2 separate regions of the Homo sapiens genome follow, and region 1 is linked to region 2. A link means that fine-mapping ties the variant in region 2 to the expression of a gene that starts in the linked region. Tissue or cell type: ovary. Region 2 holds a variant in brackets; the other region holds the start of a gene. All regions are shown on one strand. Distances are from middle to middle.

What was found. PIP is the estimated chance that this variant, and not a neighbour inherited with it, causes the effect.
Region 1: TESPA1 starts here. The variant in region 2 is fine-mapped to the expression of TESPA1 in ovary (GTEx, PIP above 0.99).

What each region holds. Positions count from the first base shown.
Region 1 is chr12:54,978,817-54,989,786 of GRCh38, forward strand. TESPA1 (thymocyte expressed, positive selection associated 1) reads right to left here and starts at 5,946. Exons shown (of 11, transcript NM_001136030.3): 1 at 5,769-5,946. It overlaps LOC107984515 (a long non-coding RNA gene), which reads left to right and starts at 6,035. Exons shown (of 2, transcript XR_001749161.2): 1 at 6,035-6,149.
Region 2 is chr12:54,943,044-54,954,167 of GRCh38, forward strand. It overlaps TESPA1 (thymocyte expressed, positive selection associated 1), which reads right to left. Exons shown (of 11, transcript NM_001136030.3): 11 at 4,972-7,347. It also overlaps the pseudogene LOC105369778. Among named protein-coding and RNA genes, the nearest start is that of TESPA1, 36 kb to the right of the region's middle. The variant TG/T (reference allele first, on the strand shown) is at 6,045.

The DNA of each region.
Region 1 (10,970 bases), 36 kb after region 2:
GTAGCAACAAACACCCATGCCTGCGCCATATGCAACAAGACAGTAAGTGGCTACCTCTCTTGTCATCATTCACCACTACTTGTAACTTCTCCCCTAAACCCATCATAGAACATAGCACAGTACTTTGCAAAAGAAGGGACTCCATAAGTGCTGTACCTGCAGAGGAGCAAGAATCACCCTGGCACTGGGAAATTATCCCCAATTAGTATTCGTCATAGGACGGGTGCTCCTGACTGTCCTCATGGCCTTGGATCCTAATGTACATTTTTGCACAGTTAGTGAAGAGGAAAAAGGCTTGGAGCATAGTCTTTCCAGTCCTTTGTTGACATAACATAAGGTCACCCAAGTCTGACTTAATTTATGAAGCTTGAACTACCAAATTCTCCTATTTAAAAAAAATATTTTCCAGAGTCTTTCATTTCAAGTTTTTATTCACTTCTTCATCAAAATTTCCTTCTGGAGTTCATCTATCATCTCTCTTGATGCTGCTTATAGTATGTGATCATATTTAGTCTTCTCTATGAGGATAGAAATATAAAGCCTGTAGATATCTGTTCTCCAATTTTCCCATGAAACTAAGAAATTCCCACAGTGGTACTATTGCTTCTTGCCTGAATCCGCCCAAACCCTCATGTCCCCCCTCTGCTACCATTTCCAGCCTTTTGTTCTTTCCTCTTTTCTACATTTCTCTAGACGTTCATTCCATAAATCCTTCTCCACAATCTTTCAAGAGTTCTGGAATCTGGGTTCAGCCAAGTGGAGTAAGATATAATTCTTGTTCTGAGGATGCTATAGTTAAAAGCAGAAATTGTAGTAGATAGGATTGAGGTTAGACAGGAGAAATATCCTCCACTGGTTTAAGATGAGGGAGTTAAGAGCTGTGAAATGAGTATCTTCCAACAAAAATTATTATCAGAGGCAGTAACTGTAGCAGCGGCAGAAAACCTGTAGAGGTATGTCATAATTATGACTCGAAGAATATCGCCTATTTCTAGTCTCTGTTTTCCCAGGGAAGCAGGTGGGGATTCACTACACATTGACACGGGCAAGTCAAAGGTAGGTAGTCATAATAACTGAAATGTATAGAGTACTGCATATTTATCCATAAAACTTTCCTGTAAACTGCTTAACTTAATCCTGACAACCACTTTAGAGCTGATTATGGTTACCTGACCCTCACAGAGATACGTTATTTGTCCAAGGCCACATCCCTGTAGTGCTGAGATTTAAACTCAAGTTGGTCTGACTCCATGTTATATAGTTTTTCCACTGACATTAGAATAAGAAAATGGCCCAATGTCACCATCCAATGTAATTTGGGATTAAAAAAAAAGGAGAAGTTATTTTAGTAAATTCTCCATTTTGCATCTATGTAAGCTCTCCATCTTATAGTCTAGTAGAGAAGAAGCACCATAAACACAATGTAATTTATATTTGGTTCTGTGACAGTCTTAGTGCAGGAAGTGTTGCTTTGTTTGTGTTATTAGAATAATTTCCTTTCTGACTCCAGCTAGGTGATTATGAAGCAGTTTAGCCTTCCTCAGGCTTACAGAGTGGTTTTTTTGGCAAGGGCCCACCTAACTTCTAGTTGGGAGGAGAGAATCTGCCTGGAATTCCGCATTACTTTCAGGTTGTTGTGGCATTCAGAATATTTCATAACGGTTTGGGGCACCACAGAGCAATGAGAGCTGATACCATCACCGCCCTGTGGTGGGGCCCCGCCCGGTACATGGCTGATGTGGCCTTGAATTTCTGGGGCCTGTCTGGGGAGTCTTGAGGAAAGAGCTGGGATAGCTGGGCTGGTCATGGGCACTCAGAGGGCTTGGGAAAGTGGATAATTATCATTAGTAGACATATTTTAATATTTTAGCAACTATTAGCCTACCAGTTTGCACCTGACAAATATCAGCTCTGCTTACAGATACTTCACCATGGGGCAATTTTCAAGGGGCTCAGTAAGGATGACCAATGCTTCTTTTTCTTTAAAGTTCAGAGTGTTATTTAGAAATTAAAGAAAAGGAAAACTGTAGAAAGAGTTTGGGCCTTGGAATCAGAGTAAGCCTAATTTGGAATCATAGTTCTGTCTGCTTTCTGCATATTTGTCCTTGGTAACACTATCTTTTCTTCTATACCTAAGTTTCTTCTTTTTCTTTTTCTTTTGTCTTGCTGTGTTACTCAGGCTGGTCTTGAACACCTGGCCTCAAGCAATCCTCCCACCTTGGCCTCCCAAAGTGCTGGGATTATAGGTGTGAGCCACCACACCTAGTCTATACCTAATTTTCTTCATAAAATAGATACTGTGCCAAACTAGTTGGGTGATTGGCAGTTGTAATCAGGTAACACATATTAAGTCCCTGATGTATAAAGGTGGTGCTTAATAAGTGATAGATATGATTATGATTATGAATCTCCCCTCAGTCTAAGATGTTCACTAAAGTTGAAACATCTTGAGGAATAAGGAAGGAAAGAAGGAAGGAAGAAGGTGAGAATTGCAGGGTACAGTTGACAGTATAAAATCAAGATGGTGAAAAAGATTTTTTAAATCTGTGTTAAGCAGAGATAAAAAGTAAGCAATGAAAAGTCTTTCTTTCCTGGGGCCTGTCCTAGGGTGGGGGGAGGGGGGAGAGATAGCATTAGGAGATGTACCTAATGTAACTGACGAGTTAACGGGTGCAGCACACCAACATGGCACATGTATACATATGTAACAAACCTGCACATTGTGCACGTGTACCCTAGAACTTAAAGTATAATATATTAAAAAAAAAAAGTCTTTCTTTCTTACCTAATTCCCAAAGGGACCAGAGAGATTACCTAATCCTGTTCACTCATTTTGTAGTTGAGGAAACTGAAGAGAGAGAGAAAGGAGGGAGAAAGAGAGAGAGAGAGGGAGGGAGAAGCAGGCTTGCCTGGAGTCACAAAGAATATTAGTGGTTTTAAATGGGAACCAAACTCACAAGTTCTGAGTTCCAGATGCATGCTTTCTTCCTTTATATCATACAGCCTTCCTCCTGCCACACTTGGTTTCCAAGGCCCAGTCCCAGGTTTGCCTTTAGTGCTCTAGGGGACATGTATGAGACAGACCTCTCTTCTCTTCTGTCTGTTTTGTACCTATGCCCCAAGCAGTGCCTGTGAGTTGAGACTGAGAGTGAGAACCAGTGTGGGAGGAGAGAAGAAGGAAATGGGGTTTCCATGATGTGGCCCATAAGACCTTCTGCATCCACAGCCAAGATATACATCATTACCATCGCAGAGCTGCGGGAAATCCCAGAGTAGCTAACATTTCTCTGTTCATGAACTGGACAAACTCCACCTCAACCCAGGTGGATTGTCCCCCATTTGACATACCCCAATCTGCAACAAATTCTCACATTCCTTCATAGAACTGTCTTCTAGCTCCTAACCCTCTTCCATGTCACTCAGGTTGGAAGATCATCAGAACAAGAATTTCCCTGAGTATAATATTTGAGCATTCTGAGACTTCTATTGTCTAAGGAGCAGTTCAATCTGTTCGGGGAAAAGGAGAGATGTTACTTGGTAAATAACAGAAAGAAAAAATGCCCATTAGTCAATAGAACTCCTATTCCCCTCCCTTTTCATACTCTTTCTCCCACAAATAAGCGTAGCTGAATAAATACTGAAAGAAGACCATCTAAGACCTTTTTCCTCTCCTTCCCTTTCTTCCTTACTTCCACTTTTAGGATATGAATTTTAAGAAAGGCTTGTATAATTGCTACAGGAAATATTAAAGTTGTGGATTTGGAAAAAAAATTAATCGCTTGTTCTCAATGTAGGGAGACATCAAATATCTTCATTTGAATGGGCAATAAAGACATCAAGAATAAGAAACAGCAGTTTATCTGAGCTGATTTATAGATGGCTTCATCAAGAGAAAGTAGGGAGAATGAGCAGATTTCTCAACCATTGTGTTAGCTCTGTGAATTCGTATCTTTAATTCTTCAGTTTCATTTCCTTGGTAATAAGCTCTGTCCTGCATATATTCATTTTTCTTCTTTCCTGCTTTTCTTTTTCAATATCTACACACTCTCTTCTCCTCGTCCCTCTACTTATTTGACTGAACTCTTTTCTCAATCTGAAATCTGTGTTTAGGCCATTCTGCATCAGGCCTGGGTGTTGTAAGGCACACAGTACTGTGGGTACTGGAATATCCACTTTGGTCTTGTGCCTTAGGTGGAAAAGAGAACAGTTGTCAGTTTGCAGGTGGAAATAAACGTGTGATCTTTTCCCCTTACTGTAGCCCAGAAGGAATCTTGTAAGTCACAGCATTGGCTGAGACGAGACCTCCATACTAGAATCCAAATCAAACATTGAACTGAAAATGACGGTTGGGGCTTCATGTTCACTACATAATGCTGAATCGCAGGGTTCCATCTTAATTTTCAAAAAACCCAAGAGTTATGAGAACATGTTGGTAGCGTGGTTGTAAATGGTTTCTAAACACCCTGGGGTGCATGCGAATAACTCAGATGTTAAATTGCTTTCTATCCCTTCTGCTATATCTTCAGCTTGTTATTTCTGATAATAGTCCAAGTAGAGACAGACAATAAACCTGACTTCCCTTCTTCCTACTAACACTTCATGCTGCAAGACAATATTGTGAGATCTTTATCTCTAATCACTCAGCTGAACAACTATTGAGTCTGATACTTGGACACACAAGTTGAAGGTTCCTACCTCCAACCTCCCATCCTAGGTACTGCCCTGCACCATCTAGAAAGTCTCCTTACCTCTCTACTCAGGACCATTTGTGGTATACAGAGTCACTAGTACTTCCCTGGATATCTCCTGTAAATGCTCACAGTCTTGTCAAATCACTTCTGTGGAACTCTCCTTTCTTGTCCTTGCCCTGCCCTGGGGACCCACCCTTTTTCTTCCACCCACTGGTGAGCTTAGTGGCACAGAAGGGGCATGGGAAAACCCCAGGGTGGAGGATCTTTCCACTCCTCCATCTACCCCAAAACTCATGTAGGTGGTGATATGCTCTGCCTGCTACCACTGGGGCAAGGGGTGTTGGAGGAGCATGAAGCCCCCAATATTATGTAGGTCACTGAGAAGGCAACACATCCATCTATCTATCTTTGAGATGTGAACCCTGAAATCTGGTCCTGATGGTGGCTATCCATCTATCTTGAGCCTCCCGGTGAATTTGACCTTACCTCACTCAAGTGTGTACATCCTCCCTCGTAGCTGACCTCAATATATCTTGCTGCAGTTTATCTCAACAAGTTTCTTCTACAGCTTCTGAAGAAAGAGGTCATACCCACAGAAAGCAAAGTTGATTTCAGCCAGGTACTCTCAATGGTTGGAGCTATGGACACTAGAGTAGGGCCTGAAATGAAACCGGGAAACTTCTTCCTTGAGAACTTTTCGATGTTATAATCAGATGGAAATTGCAGCAACAATGAGTTCAGCAAGACACAGAGAAGAACTTTGCAGGTGAGAAAGGTGAAAAAAAATTCCTAAAATGTTATTCAAGTCATCAAAGAGACCCAAGTTTTGAGAATCTAGAAAGATTACCTCTCTGATAATAAAGAGAAAACAAACAAACGAAAGCAAAAGGGCACCCAGCATCGTTCTCCTAGGCATAATGATGGATGCTTTTAAGGTTGAAGTAAGAGTGGTGGGAGATTTTCTCTTGATTTTCCCTTGACTTGACAGCCTGATTTTTCTCTGACATGTTTCCTTCTTTCTCCTAGCATCACCCTAAATCAGTACAGCCTTGAAACTGAGATAAAGGCTGTGCTTACCTGTCTGCTGGTAGAAAGCTGAGTTTGAGGCAAAGCAGTTGTCGAAGCTGGGCCGAGGCCTTCACAGGTGTGGGCACAGAGGTGAAGCAAGTGAGAAAGTATCATGTTGTAGATTATGCCTTTCTCCCTGAACTCATTCAACTGCTGTTGCCTGCTCAAAAGGGGAAGCGGAAATGAGAACACACCACACACACACACATCCACACATGTAGATGCAGTCCCCGCCTCCTGGCCCAGCCACATCCTTTGCTCCGGCTCAGGAGACTGAGCGAAGGACAAACCATCCGTAGACACGGTGCTCACAACTAGGAAGACCTTCCTGCCCCAGAGCTGCCTCTGTCTTTCCAGAAAAACAGGAGATCTTTTCCTATTAAGGCAAAGGTACAGTCCATTTAAAGAGGTGTGTGCAGGAGTCTTCCTACCATATAACTAGAATTCCACTGCTGCAGATAAATCCTTCTGTCCTCAGGAGAGCTGTCTGAAAATGGGAAAGCTCTCTCTCATAAATGATCTGGCGTTTATCTCAGAGAAGAAGTTTCCAGTCGTATCACACACTTGAGAGGGCTCTGAGCCAGTCGCTCTGTGTTGATAACTTTCATACTCTGGTAAATTCCCCCGAAGCTTGTTTTTGAATACTGACTACTTTTTTTTTCTGTTAGTTTCTTAACTTTGTTTTATGTTCAAACCACTTCAAAGTTTTTGTTTTTGTAGTAAATGACTGCTTTCCCCAACGTTTTCAAAGCTGAACTTTTAAAATCGGTTACACCCTGAAGATGTCTTCAGTTTATTGGTTTTCAGTTTGGAAAAGGCTTGTTGAACTCTAAAAGGTTTCTCCCAGGCCTCAATCACTTTCACCCACCGGGAGCATCCAGCACTGCTAACTATCCCTCCTCGCTTCTCCAGTATCTCTGAACACTCTTCTCCGTAGGATGCTGCTGCATTTTGGATATCTTCTTTCTGTCTCTCTCCTGATTCTACTGTTTCCTTCTTTAAATCATTTATTTATGAATGTATATCACAATATTTATTCTACAAGGCACTCCTCTAATGTGTTAATTGTGACTGATTTTCACATGTTCATTACCTTCTTTCTGATTTTTTGGCTATAGGTATAGTTAGATTTTTTTTTTACCATGTTTCTAAATTCCATTTCCAATCATCAATGGGACAACTCCATTGAGTATCCATAGTATAGCTATAATATGGTAGAAATAATCCTAAATAAAATTCTTGCTTGGCAAATTAAGTTCTCAAAACATTATTTTCTTCAAGTATAATGTGAGGAAAATAACAATTCTCTCTGTTTCTCACTCAACCCTTCTCCCACGCTATTCCTTTTACGTAGGCATGAAAATATCTAACATATTTTCTCAGGACATAGTAGATGCTAAATATGTGCTTCTCTGAGAATTAGCTTCACAGTCAACAAGTAAAATGCTAAATCCAACACGCCCTAATTCTCTTTATTTACTATTCTTTTCCGTACAAATTAACTATAAAAGCTGAACTAATGGAAACTTAACAACTCTTTTAAATCCTAAGTTTCTAGAATTCAATGTTTTCCTTAACAGTTGTTTTCCAATATGTTTGGGAAATGGAGAATATAACTTCGGTAGGGAGTTTGGAAATATGTGAGAGAGATTTAATTTTCAAAGAAATGGGAAGCTGATACTGGTATTTAGTACCTGAGGGCCAATGATGATAAGTGCTTTTGAAGGGATGGGACTCTTCAGTATAAGGAATAATTGTCCTGGCCCAAATGTCAACATTTTGTTAACATTGATAGTTTGATGGTTAGGAGAGCAGGCTTTAGAGTGAAGCTCTGGCATCAAGTAGCTCTGTAGTCTTGGATACGTTAACATCTCTAGGTCTCAGTTTGTTAGCTGCTAAATGGGGATAACCTTACAGGAGTGGTTGTAGAGCTATAAGAATAAAGGAATACAGAGTATTCAGTCCAGCGCCTACCTTACAGCAAATGCTCAAGAAATTGCAGCTATTTTTAAGACTCTTGAAATATAATAGTTTCTTTTAACTTTTATTTTAAGTTCAGTGGTACATGTGCAAGTTTGTTACATAGGTAAACTCCTGTCATAGGGGTTTGTTGTACAGATTATTTCATCACCCAGGTATTAAGCCTAGTACCCAATAGGTATTTGTTTTGATCCTCTCCCTCCTTCCACCCTCTACCCTCCCATAGGCCCCAGTGTGTGTTGTTTCCCTCTATGTGTCCATGTGTTCTCATCATTTAGCTCCCACTTATAGGTGAGAACATGCGGTATTTGGTTTTCTGTTCCTGTGTTAGTTTGCTAAGGATAATGGCCTCCAGCTCCATCCATGTTGCTGCAAAGGACATGATCTCATTCTTTTTTATGGCTGCATAGTATTCCATGGTGTATATGTGCCACATTTTCTTTATCCAGTCTATCATCACTGGGCATTTGGGTTGATTCCATGTCTTTGCTATTGTGAATAGTGTTGCAGCAAACATACATGTGCTCGTGTCTTTATAACAGAATGATTTATATTCCTCCAGGTATATACTCGGTAATGGGATTGCTGAGTCTAAAGATATTTCTGTTTTTAGGTCTTTGAGCAATCGCCACATTGTCTTCCACAAGGGTTGAACTAATTTACACTCCCGCCAACAGTGTATAAACATTCCTTTTCCTCTGCCACCTCGCCAACATCTTTTATTTTTTGACTTTTTAATAATAGCCATTCTGAGTAGTGTGAGATGGTATCTCATTGTGGTTTTGATTTGCATGAAATATAATATTTTCAGTTTCTGCAGAATACTATGTCTATCTGTCAAAATTACCTCACTCATTAAAGATACCATTTCACAAGCAATTGCTAGAGATTTTTTTGTTAATAAAAAAGATGTATTAATTTTTGGTTTTTATTTATATTTATTCTTAATTTTTATGAGTACATATGTAGGTTTATATGTTTATAGTATTTGTGATTTATTTTTTGAAAGAAATATTTTTCTCTTCTACAAGCAGCTTCTGAAAGACAAAGATGAAGACTATATGATTCCTAGGAGGAGGAGGCGGCCCAGGGTATTCCTCTGTTTATCTTCTTTCTCAGTTGTATAGTCTTTCTCTTTCTTTCTTTGTTTCTTTCCTTCTTTCCCTTCCTTCCTTCCATTCCTTTTCCTTCCTTCCTTCCTTCCTTCCTTCTTTCCTTCCTTCCCTCCTTTCCTCCTTCCCCTTTCTCTTTTTTCCCTCTCACCTGCCCTTCCCACCCTTTGAAAACATTGTCTCTATATCTTTGGCACCATGAACTTCTCTGAGCATATATTCCAGGTGCTTCATGAAAACAAAATGACTTGTTCTTTTTATACGAGACGCAGTAGTTCAGGGTTTCTGAAGGTTTTTTTGTGAGCTTGTTCATTTTTTTTCCCTTGGTTAAAAATAAAAACCCTTATGCTAACTGAGATAATGAATTAGCTCTCTACTGCCTATGTGATTCAGCAGTTTGGTGCCTCATGATAGGGCCTATTTGTCATTCCATGGCTCCCTCTCTTGTGTTTTATAGAATTTAGTAAAAACCCTGAACTAGGGGTAAAAGAGCAATCTGAGTTTAAAACTATACTAGTTACTTAATTTCACTGGATATCGGTATCACCTTCTGACAGAGAAATATTTTCTAAGATCCTCTTGGCTTTAGATGTCAGTAACACCTGTACAGACTATTTTTCTCTACCCTTTTATAACTGCATGTAGTTTATTATGGAAAATGAAAATATTAAGTGATATTTGGTAAGAAATTATTATAAAGGTATTAGAAAAAGTATTTTGAAAGACTCTTTTCCATTGAAAAGCCAAGTAAATATTGCTTTTGAATAATATTATCCTCTAGACATGTAACCTGATAACACTGATAAATAAGAACAATTTCTGAACACTGATGAGCCCATCAAACAGATGGGCTGTAGTGAGTATAAGTTCTGGAGCTGCAGAACTACAGGCTGAGCTGGCAGGTTGCCCAGACCTGGGGCAGAGCCAGGACAGCTGTCCATAGAGGCTGTCCCAAGACAGAGAAGCTGCTGCTCAGAGCCACTGCTCTGGGCCGAGCAGCTGGGCCCCTCTGCCCAGGCCCAGATGCAAATCATCTGCCTCCATTTCAGCTCTCAACCTTCTTCTTTCTCAGATCCTGGGGTTTGCAAATGCCATTTTTGTTTTGTTTTGTTTGGCTGTTTTGTTTTTTTTGCTAAGAGTCTGTTCCTCCAAATTGCTGATGTGGGAATTTGAGTGACTTTGTCTCCTTCCTGTACCAAAGGCTCAAAAGTAGAAAGAGAGAGTGGATAGAATTGTAGGGGAGAGAGCAGTGATTTAACTCACCAAGGATTTTCTGAACTTTCTCCAGGCAGAAAAGTGTCCACCAAGGTCATCTTGTTCTTTTCTCTGCTTCTATGTTCTGGTTGTTAAGGATACAAACAAATGGGATTCTCTAACTTTTCTAACCTACCCATTCTACTAAATTACTCCACTCAATGCCAGAAAGTTCTTCCTTCTGTCTGGCTGTATCTTCCCTCTGTAAGAGTCCAGCAAAACAGAAGAGCAATCCATCTCAGGCCTCTGCAGAGGGTGTTCTTTCAGTGATCTGGATTGTAATTCTACCCAAAATGTATTTTATTGGATACCTTCTGAGTGTCAGAAATGAGATAGATCTGGGGAAGGGACTGAGGGGAGTATAGAAGGAGAGGAAGATATACAAGGGGGAGAAACAGTATCAAATACTGTCCCTTAGAGGGCTTATTTTCTAGTATGATCAAGTAATTTGGGGAAATACAGGGTTAACAAAAGACAAACATGTTCCTTTAAGGCAGTGGTCCCCAACCTTTTGGCATCAAGGACTGGTTTCATGGAAGACAATTTTTCCATGGGAGCAGGGTGAGGGGGAGGGTTTGGCGATGAAACTGTTCCACTTCAGATGATCATGCCTGCCACTCACCTTCCTGCTGTGAGGCCAGGTTCCTAACAGGCAACCAAACTGTGCTGGTCTGTGGTCCAGGGGTTGAGGCCCCCTGCTTTAAGGCATAACTTCTTGAGGCTTTTAATAGATTAACATGAATTGTGACTCTCCTAGAAGGAGAAAGTTTTGTATTTCCCAAATGTATTGGCCTATGGATTCCCCTGCCCTCCCCTCCCCTCCCCTCTCCTTCCCTACCCTTCCCTTATCTTTCCTTCCTTCCTT
Region 2 (11,124 bases):
CTGTGAGCAGGATTAGGGGTGGCATGGGAACCTAGAGTGGGAGAGATTAAGCTGAAGGAAGATTTTGTGTTAAGGGGTGATATTGTGGGGTTGTTAGAAGGAGCATTTGTGTATAGAATGATTGGTGATGGCCTGGATATGGTTTTGGATGAATTGAGAAACTAAACAGAAGACACAAGGCCCAAATAAGAGAAGAATAACAGGTATTAAAGGACTAAGAATGGGAAGACCCAGGACATCCAATTAGAGAGTGCCCAAGGGGGTTCAGCATAATTACTTGCTTGGTTGGCAAGTTTTTAGGCTCTATCCTTGAGTTTTTATGTTGTCGTATACTAGGCCAGATTGATTTAGATAAAAACAACACTTCATTAAAAAATATACAGAGTCCCCCCTTTTTAGCAGTAAGTCGGGGCCTTGGCGATTTTGGAGGAAAGAGAAATGCAAAGTCAGCAATTGTTTGTTGAAGAAGGATTAGAAATGGCTAGGAGAGAGTGAGTGAGATTGATAGTGTGGTAGAGATAGCTGGGGAGAGGTAGAGGGTGGCATAAGAACAGAAACGAGAATAAGAGTGAGTTTAAGGTAAAGAATAGGACTTCATCAGGGTGAAAGTATTGGAGGGTGCCCTGCCAGCAAAGATTATTTACTTTAAGAGGGAGTTAAGAGTGGTGGTTTGGGGATAGCACCAGGAGATATCAGCTGTGATGGCTTGGAGAAACAGTGTAAACCGGCAGTGTAAACAAGAGCAGGGCATTTATGAGTAGTTGGGAATGGTGAATAGAAGAATGACTAGACAGAAGATAGTAGGGATGACAAGTTTTTGGGGCACAATCCAAGTTGGGCTGGTGTCTGGAATGAGACTGGGGCCTAATAAAAATGAGCATCCATACAGGAGCTCAAATGGGCTGTACCCTGTAGCATTCCAAGAACAGGCCCGAATTCTGAGAAGGGTAAGTTGTAAAAGTACTGCCCAGTCCTTAAGTTGGAGGCTGAGCTTGGTGAGGTGTGTCTTTAAAAGACCATTAGTCTGTTTTGCTTTTCCTGAAGATTGAGGATGGTAAGGGGTATGAAGTTTCCACTGAATACCAAGAGCCTGAGAAACTGCTTGGGTGATTTGACTAGCAAAGGCCTGTCTGTTATTGGACTGTATAGAGGTGGGAAGGCCAAATCATGGAATTATGTCTGACAGAAGGGAAGAAATGAACACGGTGGCCTTCTCAGACCCTGTGGGAAAGGCCTCTACCCATCCAGTGAAAGTGTCTACCCAGACCAAAAGGTATTTTAGTTTCCTGACTTGGGGCATGTGAGTAAAATTAATTTGCCAGTCCTGGGCAGGGGCAAATCCCTGAGCTTGATGTGTAGGGAAGGGAGGGGGCCTGAACAATCCCTGAGGAGTAGCAGAATAGCAGATGGAACACTAAGAAGTGATTTCCTTGAGGATAGATTTCCATGATGGAAAGGAAATGAGAGGTTCTAAGAGATGGGCTAGCGGTTTGCAACCTACATGGAAGAGGCTATGAAATGACAAAAGAATAGAATGGGCCTGTGAGGCTGAAAGGGGATATTTTCCTTGGTCTAAGGACCATTTTCCTTGTGTGGGAAGAGATTGATAGGTGGAAGTTTCAGTGGGGGAGTAGGTGGGAGTGACCGATGAGAAGGAGAAAAACTGGCAGTTAGGGAGAGAAATTGGAATGCTAGCTGCTTCTTTAGCTATCTTATCAGCATAAGTGTTGCCCTGAGTGATGGGATCTGATGCCTTTTGATGGCCCTTGCAGTGAATGACTCCAGCTTCCTTTGGAAGTATAGCGGCCTTGAGAAGACTATTTGTTAAAGAGGCATTAATGATGGAGGACCCTTGTGTAGTGAAGAAACCTCTTTTTGCCCATATAACAGCATGGTGGTTCAGGATATGGACGGCATATTTAGAGTCAGTATAAATATTGATGTGTACTCCTTTTGCAAGAGTGAGGGCTCAAGTTAAGGCAATGAGTTCGGCTTGCTGAGAGGTAGTGGAGGGGGGAAGAAAGTATATGCATCAGATGTGAGGAAGAAAATAGATTTTGGAAGTTATGACAACTGCAGAGAGTGAGTTGAGCATAGTTTGTGATTTTGAGGACCTCTAAAAGTATTAAAGCAGTGGTACCTGCCACATGCAGACATGAGGGCTAGGCTAAAACAGTAACGTCAAGTTGTTTGGACAGAAAGGCTAAAGGGCGTGGTCCCAGCTCTTGTGTAAGAACTCCAACTGCACAGCCCTGCACTTCAGCTGTGTGTAGTGGAAAGGGAGTGATAAGTTAGGGAGAGCTAGTGTGGGAGCTGTTTTTTAAGGAATGGATAGGGGAGTGGAGAAAGGATTTAGGATCTATGGGGTCAGCTAGGTTTACCTAGAACAGAATAATGGGTTGTGGAGGGAGGTATTGAGGATAGGAGAGTATATGAGGTTTCACACCACAGGGTGGATACGCAAAACAATTTGGTTGATAAGGCACAGATCCTGACGTAACCTGTAAGACTTGTCCAGTTTCTGGACAGGTAAAATGGGGGAATTGTAAAGAGGGTTTATAGGCTTTAAAAGGGCATGCTGTAACAGGCAAGTGATAACAAACTTTAATCCTTTTAAAGTTTGCTGTGGGATGGGGTATTGGCATTGAGTGGGATAAGGGTTATTAGGTTTTAATGGGATAGTAATGGGTATGTGACCAGTTGCCAGGGAGGGAGTAGAGGTGTCCCATACCTGTGGATTAAGGTAGGGAGATACAAGGGGAGGATTTGAAGGAGGCTTTGAACTGGGGAAAAGGGTGGCAATGAGGTGTGGCTGTAGCCTAGTCAGGGAAGCAGATAATCTAGTTAAAATGTCTTGGCCTAATAAGGGAGCTGGGCAGGTGGAGATAACTAAAAAGGAGTGCATAAAAGAATATTGTCCAAGTTGGCACCAGAGTTGGGGAGTTTTGAGAGGTTTAGAAGCCTGGCTGTCAATACGCACAACAGTTATGGAGGCAAAGGAAACAGGCCCTTTAAAAGCAGGTAATGTGCAGTGGGTTGTCTCCATATTGATTAAGAAGAGGAAGGACTTACCCTCCACTGTAAGAGTTACCGAAAGCATCTGTGATGGTCCAGAAGGCTTCTGAGGCAAGTGGGCAGTGTCAGTCTTCAGCCACTGAGCCAAGAAGATCTGGGAAGGAGTCAGTCAGAGAGCCTTGGGCCAGAGTTCCAGGGGCTCTGGGAGTGGCTGCCAGGTGAGTTGGACAGTCCGATTTCCAGTGGGGTCCTGCACATATGGGACACAGCTTAGGAGGAATCCCAGGCTGTGGGCATTCCTTGGCCTAGTGGCCAGATTTCCAGCACTTGAAACAAGATACTGGGGGAGGAGGTCCTGAAGAAATGCCTGACTGCTGTGGCTTAGGCGTTTTGAAGTTCTTGTGTGCTGGAGATGTGGCTGGAGTTTCTCTCACAGCAGCGGCAAGTAATTGCAACTCTTCTGTATTATTGTACACCTTGAAGACAAGGTTAATTAAGACCTGTGTGGGGTTTAAGGGCCAAAATCTAATTTTTGGAGCTTTATTTAATGTTGGGAATGAATTGCGTAATAAAATGCATATTGAGAATAAGACAGCCTTCTGACCTTTCAGGGTCTAGGGCTGTGAAGCGTCTCAGAGTTGCTGCCAAATAAGTCATGAACTGGGGTGGGTTTTTACATTTGATGAAAAAGAGCCTAAACACTAACTGATTTGGGAGAGGTCGGATAAAGAAAAAGGAGCATTAACCTTGACTATGCCTTTAGCTCCAGCCACCGATTTAAGAGGAAATTGCTGGGCAGGTGGCGGGGGCTAGTCGGGGAAAGAAACTGTAAGTCGGACTGGGTGTGAGAAGGGGAGGTGATAGAAGGATTATAGGGTGGGGGAGCAGAGCCTGAGGAAGAATTGGAGCCTGATTCAGCCTGGTGGGGAGCGACCTGAGGAGGAGCAGTCTGGGGATGAGGGGAGAGGTCAGATGGGTCTGTAGAAAAGGAATATTGAAAAGACTCAGTGATGCTTGGGGTTAGGACTGAGGGGAAGGGTGGAAGGGAAAGAAGGAGGATTTGGGATGAGTCACATTGGGAAAAGAGACTAGAGAGGGACCCATGTGTAAAAGAATGCATGGACCTCAGGCACCTCAGACCGTTTGCCCATTGTACGACAAGAATTATCTAGATCTTGTAGGATGGAAAAATTGAAAGTGCCTTTTTCTGGCTATTTGGAACCATTGTTGAGTTTGTATTGGGGTTAAGCAGCATTGCAGAAGAAAATAAGGCATTTAGGTTTCAGGTCAGGTGTGAGTTGAAGAGGTTTTAAGTTCTTGAGAACACAGGCTAAGGGAGAAGAAGGAGGAATGGAGGGTGGAAGGTTGCCTATAGTGAAGGAGGCAAGCCCAGAGAAAAGAGAGGGTAGAGACACGGAGAGAAGGGGTGGGGGGGTGTTTGCACCCTAGGAAACTGGTGTTTGTCACTAAGGGTGAAGGATCAAGGCAGGCATCCCTGCGGTGATCAGGCATCTCTGAAACGTGGGTGAATAATCAAGCAGGTGTCCCTGCAGTGATTAAACACCAAGGGAAATCTGTCTTCCCAAGTCCCTGACCGGCACCGGAGTTTTGGGTTCATGGATAAAACACATCTCCTCTGTCTCTACCAGAAAAGGAAAGGAACTGAAATTAAGAGAAGGGAGAGAGTGAAGGATGGTGCCAAGATTGAAAGGAGAAAGAGGTTGAGGGATAGTGAGAGAGGTTGGAGAAGGCAGTAAAAGGAGGCCGCTTACCCAATTTAAAATTGGTGAGATGTTCCTTGGGCTGGTTCATCGGAGGACCAGAGGTCGTAGGTGGATCTTTCTCATGGAGTAAAGAGCAGGAGGACAGGGGATTGATCTCCCCAGGGAAGTCCCCCGATCGAAGTCACAGCACCAAATGTCACGGGCGTCCGTGTGAAGAGACAACCAAACAGGCTTTGTGTGAGCAATAAAGCTTTTTAATCACCTGGGTGCAGGCAGGCTGAGTCCAAAAAGAGAGTCAGCAAAGGGAGATAGGGGTGGGGCTGTTTTATAGGATTTAGGTAGGTAGTGGAAAATTACAGTCAAAGGGGATTATTCTCTGGCAGGCAGGGGTGGGGGTCACAAGGTGCTCAGTGGGGGAGCTTCTGAGCCAGAAGAAGGAATTTCACAAAGTAATGTCATCTGTTAAGGCAGCAACAGGCCATTTTCACTTCTTTTGTGATTCTCCACTTGCTTCAGGCCATCTGGATGTATACATGCAGGTCACAGGGGATATGATGGCTTAGCTTGGGCTCAGAGGCCTGACAGTTTGGATCTGTGTCCTCACCCAAATCTCATGTCAAACTGTAATCCCCATTGTTGGAGGTGGGGCCTGGTGGGTGGTGATTGGATTACTGGGTAGAGTTTTCATTAATCGTTTAGCACCATCTCCCCTTGGTACTGTATAATGAGTGAGTTCTTACAAGATCTGGTCATTTAAAAGTGTTAGCACCTCCCCTTTCCTTTGTTCCTCCTGCTCATACCATGTAAGATGCCTGCTCCCACTTTGCTTTCCACCATGAGTTAAAGCTCCCTGAGGCCTCCCCAGAAACTGATGTTGCCATGCTTCCTGTACAGCCTGCGGAACTGTGAGCCAATTAAACCTCTTTTCTGTATAAATTACCCAGTCTCAGGTATTTATTTATAGCAGTGTGAGAATGGACTAATACAGTTCTTTAAATGAAATATTGTCAGATATTTCTGTTCTCTTGTGACAAGATAGCCTTAACTTTCCCCTCAGCTTGACCAAATAGGTTTCTTCCTGACTTCAGGCCCTTGACCTCCCTTAAGAATATTTGCTTTAGAAAATTTGCTGTAGTTCTTTCTATTTCTTGAGATCTAAATCTTCTTCCAGCCTCTTCCCAGTTTTACAACTCAGGAATATCTTTCTCTAGGACCTGAGAACCACCTCTTTGAAATGTTAACATCAAGGAAGATAGTTCCCCTGTCTCCTGGTTTCTGTGGGTGGGAAGGGTAGGAAACTTGGAG[TG/T]GGGGGGCTTTTTCCAAATTGTGAAACTATCTTTTATCATGAAATAGGAGAAAGTTCATTTTGTTCTTTTGGTATGGGGAATTAGTAAACACAGATGGTTTAAAAATTTTTCCACCCTAGCCCTTTTGTCTCTGCCTCACTACGTATCAGACTCAGTTTGTGCCTTCTCCCCTAATGCTGGCAATAGCACCAGAACAAAATCAACTTCTGCTTATCATGTCTGGTGTAATTTTTTCCTTTAAACTTTTGGTTATGATTTCCCTCAAATTCCCTCAAGTCCCTCTCTTCCTGTTTTTTTTTTTTTTTTCTTTTGTCTCACAATTTATTAGGCAGCCAAATAATATACTTCTGGAAATGCGTGCATCTTACTTCTCCCATTCTATTAATATTAATATTTTCTCAGGGGAGAAATGTGTCCAAGATGCTCTGAAACCACATACTGCCTAAGAGAGCACTGCATGTGCTCAAGCCCTGTTTATTGACAAAACATTTAACTTCCAAAGCAAACTACAGCTGTTAGTTAACTTTAAAAACATGCCATGATTTAAAAAAAATATTTGTATTGTTTTCTGCCAACAGAAATAGCATTTTTTCCCCCCACAATGGCTAGGAGAAGAGACTCTGAATCCTACTTATCTCTTTTTCTATAAAGATGCAAAATTTTGGGTAGAGAAAGAAACTGGATTTAAGGAGGAGTCTCCAAGTTGATTTCTTCAAAGGAGGTCTCAAGAAGAAAAATAGGACTCCAGTGTTGTAGAAGATTTTCTGGAATTTAGTTAGGAATACAGGGATGAACAGAGGTGCAGAGGGAATCCTAGTGTGAGATGTACCATGCTTTTAGAGCCAGAAAGTGAGGTGTCCTTCCTCTCTTCACTTGGGCCTTTTGAAAGTATTAGAAAAAAACTTGTCCCCTAAACTTGATCCTGAAGTCTCCTAACTGCCCTTGGCAATGTCAAAGCTTGGGAGAAAATTAAGGCTTTGTTCAGTTTACTATCATCCACATTATATATTTTAATACACACATAGTAGAGAAACCAGTGTACAGAGAAATGAAGAGATGTGCCTAAGGTCTTTGTGCATGCAGCTTGTGGCAGCATTAGGATGTGGATTCCAAATCGCTCAGTCTGGTCTTCCTCCCCATGTACCATGCTGCCTTTCTCCTGCAGAGTTTGGGGGTTTGGAGGACCAAGGAGTAGGGGCTGGATGTTGAGGGCAGTGCAGTTTCCTGCAAGAGGTGGCTTTTAGTTTCTTCTTTGAAGCCAATTCTGTCAGACCACATGCTGTTGTGGTGGTGGAGAAAGCCTGCAATGGGAATAAAAAAGATACATATCATGCATTTTTTAAACAACTTTGGGTACTGAGGTTGGTAGGAACTTTCATACCTCAGCTGTGGAAATGTTTCTCAGTATTATAAGTGACATTTAAAGTTATTAGCAGCAGCAGCAAAGAGTCATGTGACTTGGGGTTTCTGCTCTTTTCATCATGAGGTGAGATTCCTGCAAGAGTTTACCTCTTACTGTTTAATACTTATAAAGGCATACATTTATACCTTTATTTTTTTGTATGGATTGCTGAACACTGTTGGAGAATATCACTAAACCACTATCAATTCATGTTCTGCACCTTGAAATGAGCCTAACATTATTCACCTATTCAACTAGCAATGCATTTTCTATTAATAAGTATTTCTCTTGTTTTTTCTACATAGTAGAATTCTCAAATTTTTACCATTCCTTTCCTGACTCACACTTTTTAGTAATGACCCCACAGGAAAAAGAGAGAAAGAAATAGGCAGAATTTTTCTTGACTTCCTCTCCAGATGACCAATATAACCATATTGACACTTAAAATTTTTTTCCATTTTTTTTTCCCTTTAATCTCAGAGAAATATCTGTCACACTACTTTATGGCTAGCTACACCCTCCAAAAGTGCCTTGAATCTCATCTCATCCCAGTTCTCAGTGACTTCACACCATTAACATCCCTGATATAGTTTGGCTCTGTGTCCCCACCCAAATATCATGTTGAATTGTGATCCTGAATGTTGGAGGTGGGGCCTCATGGGAGGTGATTGGATCACAGAAGCAGATTTCCCCCTTGCTGTTCTCATGACAGCGAGTGAATTCTCATGAGATCTGGTTGTTTAAAAGTGTGTAGCTCTTCCCCCTTCTCTCTCTCTCCTGCTGACCATGTGAATATGTGCTTGCTTCCCCTTCCCCTTCTGCCATGAATGAAAGTTCCTGAGGTCTCCCTAGCCATGCCTCCTGCACAGCCTGTGGAACCATGAGCCAATTAAACCTCTTTTCTTTACCCACTCTCAGCTAGGTCCTTACAGCAATGTGAGAAGAGACTCATACAATTCCTTCCCTCCTAAACCATAGCCTTTCCCATTCTATTGATTCTTTCCTTCCAGGGAAATATTTACTGTATGCTTAAACTTTCACCATCCTAGAAAAAAATTATTTACCTACTTTCTTTTCAACATTTCTTATTCACTTTTCATATTAATATTTTAAAGCCTTGTCACCCAAATAAAAATATTCTTATCAAGGTTAGTAATTGTTATCTAGTCACAAATACAATGGTATCTTTGCATTTTCCTTCCTATTGGATATTTTATGGTAAATGTTACTGAAGACTACACCCTCCTTCTTGAGAGAAACATCACTTGGTTTCTATTTGCAACCTTTTTCTAATCAATATTGCTCCTTTATATACGTTGTTCCTTGATAAAACTTTAAATATTAATATTTCTAAGTTGTTTTTTTTTTTTTACTTCAGATTCTGATTCTGCATACTTTCTTGGGTGAACTATCTTTCCTCATGCCGTCACCTATTATAAGTAAGCCTTGAACTCCAAAAAGCTCAATTCCTAGATTCCTTTATCCAAACTGCCTTATGGACTGTTGTTTGAGTTTGCCCTCCAAAATTCATGTTGGAATTTAATTGCCATCGTGATAGTATCAAGAGGTGAGGTCTTAGGGAAAAAATTAGGATTAGATAAACTCATCAGGGTGAGGCCCCATGATGGGAATCTTGGCTATATAAGAAGAGGAAGGGAGACCTGAGATGGCATGCTCTTGCTTTTTTACCATGTGATATCCTCTGCCATGTTATGATGCAGAAAGGAGGCCCTCACCGGATGTGGTCCCTCAACCTTGGACTTCCCAGCTCCCAGAACTGTAGTAAATAAATTTCTTTTATAAAGTAAAATACCTAGTTTGTAATGTTCTATTATAGCAACAGAAACCAATGAAGACATGAACCTCTTTATCACAGTATTTTAGAAGTACCTTACACTCACCATGTTCAGATATGAACTCATCAGCTTTTTCTAAATAGTCAAACAAGATGACTAGATACTCTTTCAGTACAGTGTTAATCTTGACTTTCTATTTACACTGCTATTTTATAGTTTTGCAAGAGCAGAGATTACCTTAGTGATTTATGTTGGGTAGAGATGCAAATAATTTCCATCCAGTGGAACCAGTAATCCCAGAGATAAAGTTTATGCTGTTATTGGATATTAACCAGTTTTGTATCTAATATGGCAATCTGTTAAATTCTCTCTCTGTATAAACTGACTTCTCAAATAGTCTTTGGACCAGGTCAAGCATATTGCTGGTGCCTTCAGTAATTAATGAATTGAGTAAAGTCTTTGAACATGTTTATCTACATTTGCATGAGAGTCATTATTTTACCTTTTTGAAAATTATACTTTAATATATTTGCCTTCCAAATTGTTATTCCTATTTTTACTTCATTCTTAATAAAATGATATTTACATCCATTTAGTTGCCCAAGAGGAAACCTGTATGCCCTATCTTTCTTTCTGTTCCTTATTCCATTTTTCTTCCCCAAACACAAGTCTAATCGGTCCTGGCTTAGATATTTTACCTCCTGAATATCTCAAAATCTCACTCGTCCTCCCCTCTATTCCCACTGCCTTCAGCTTGTTTCTGATCATCACATTTCTCCCTAGGTTTCTGCAGTAGATTCTTAAATTATTTTCCTTACTCTGCCGGCTTCCTACCCAGTCCATCTCCCATACTTCTACCAGAATAATCTTTCTAAAAGACAAATCTAATCACATCACTTCCTTTGTAAATTTTTCAGTGGATTCCTACCTTAGACTAAACCAAAACACTTAAAATAACATAGGAGACTCTGTTTTATAACTTCCTTTCTATTTATCTTTCTTATTTTCAGTTTTGATCTTTCTCCAGCACATCCCCTTTCTCCCACTAGGCATAAGGTGTAGTTTCCATAAGATATTGTGGTATTCCATTCATCTGTCTTTGAACTTACCTTTCTCTCTGCCTAGAATATCAATATTCTGCTTTTCCTTTTTCTACTCTCCTCAGCCACCTTCTCCCTGTTCAATGTTGGACACATCTGTCCAGACTTACCTTCTCTACATCTTTTTTTATTTACTTTTTTTTTTTTTGAGACGGAGTCTCGCTCTGTCGCCCACGCTAGAGTGCAGTGGCACGATCACAGCTCACTGCAAGCTCCGCCTCCCGGGTTCACGCCATTCTCCTGCCTCAAGCCTCCCGAGTAGCTGGGACTACAGGGACCCGCCACTACGCCTGGCTAATTTTTTTTGTATTTTTAGTAGAGACGGGGTTTCACCGTGTTAGCCAGGATGCTCTCAATCTCCTGACCTCGTGATCTGCCCGCCTCGGCCTCCCAAAGTGCTGGGATTACAGGCGTGAGCCACCGTGCCCGGCCTACCTTCTCTACATCTTTGCCAACACACATCGTTAAAAAAAGTAATGCCATCTTCTGAAAGGTTAATTTCTGGTCCCTATGGCATTTAATGAAAATTATTAATAATTACTGATTCTCTTGTCATGTTTTTCACTAAACTATGAGCTCAAAGCATCCTGTGAACATTTCTGCTTATTCTGTATAATGCTTCTCTTGCTGGTGACTTTATAAGAAGGCAAGTACATTTCAGTGGTGACAAAGGTAGTGAGAGTATTGGTACTTAGCATAAAGGGTCAAGGCACACAGTAAATGAAGCTCAGATCCAAGTACAGGTAGCGAGGCTTGCCCTGATCCACAGTAACAGCCTAA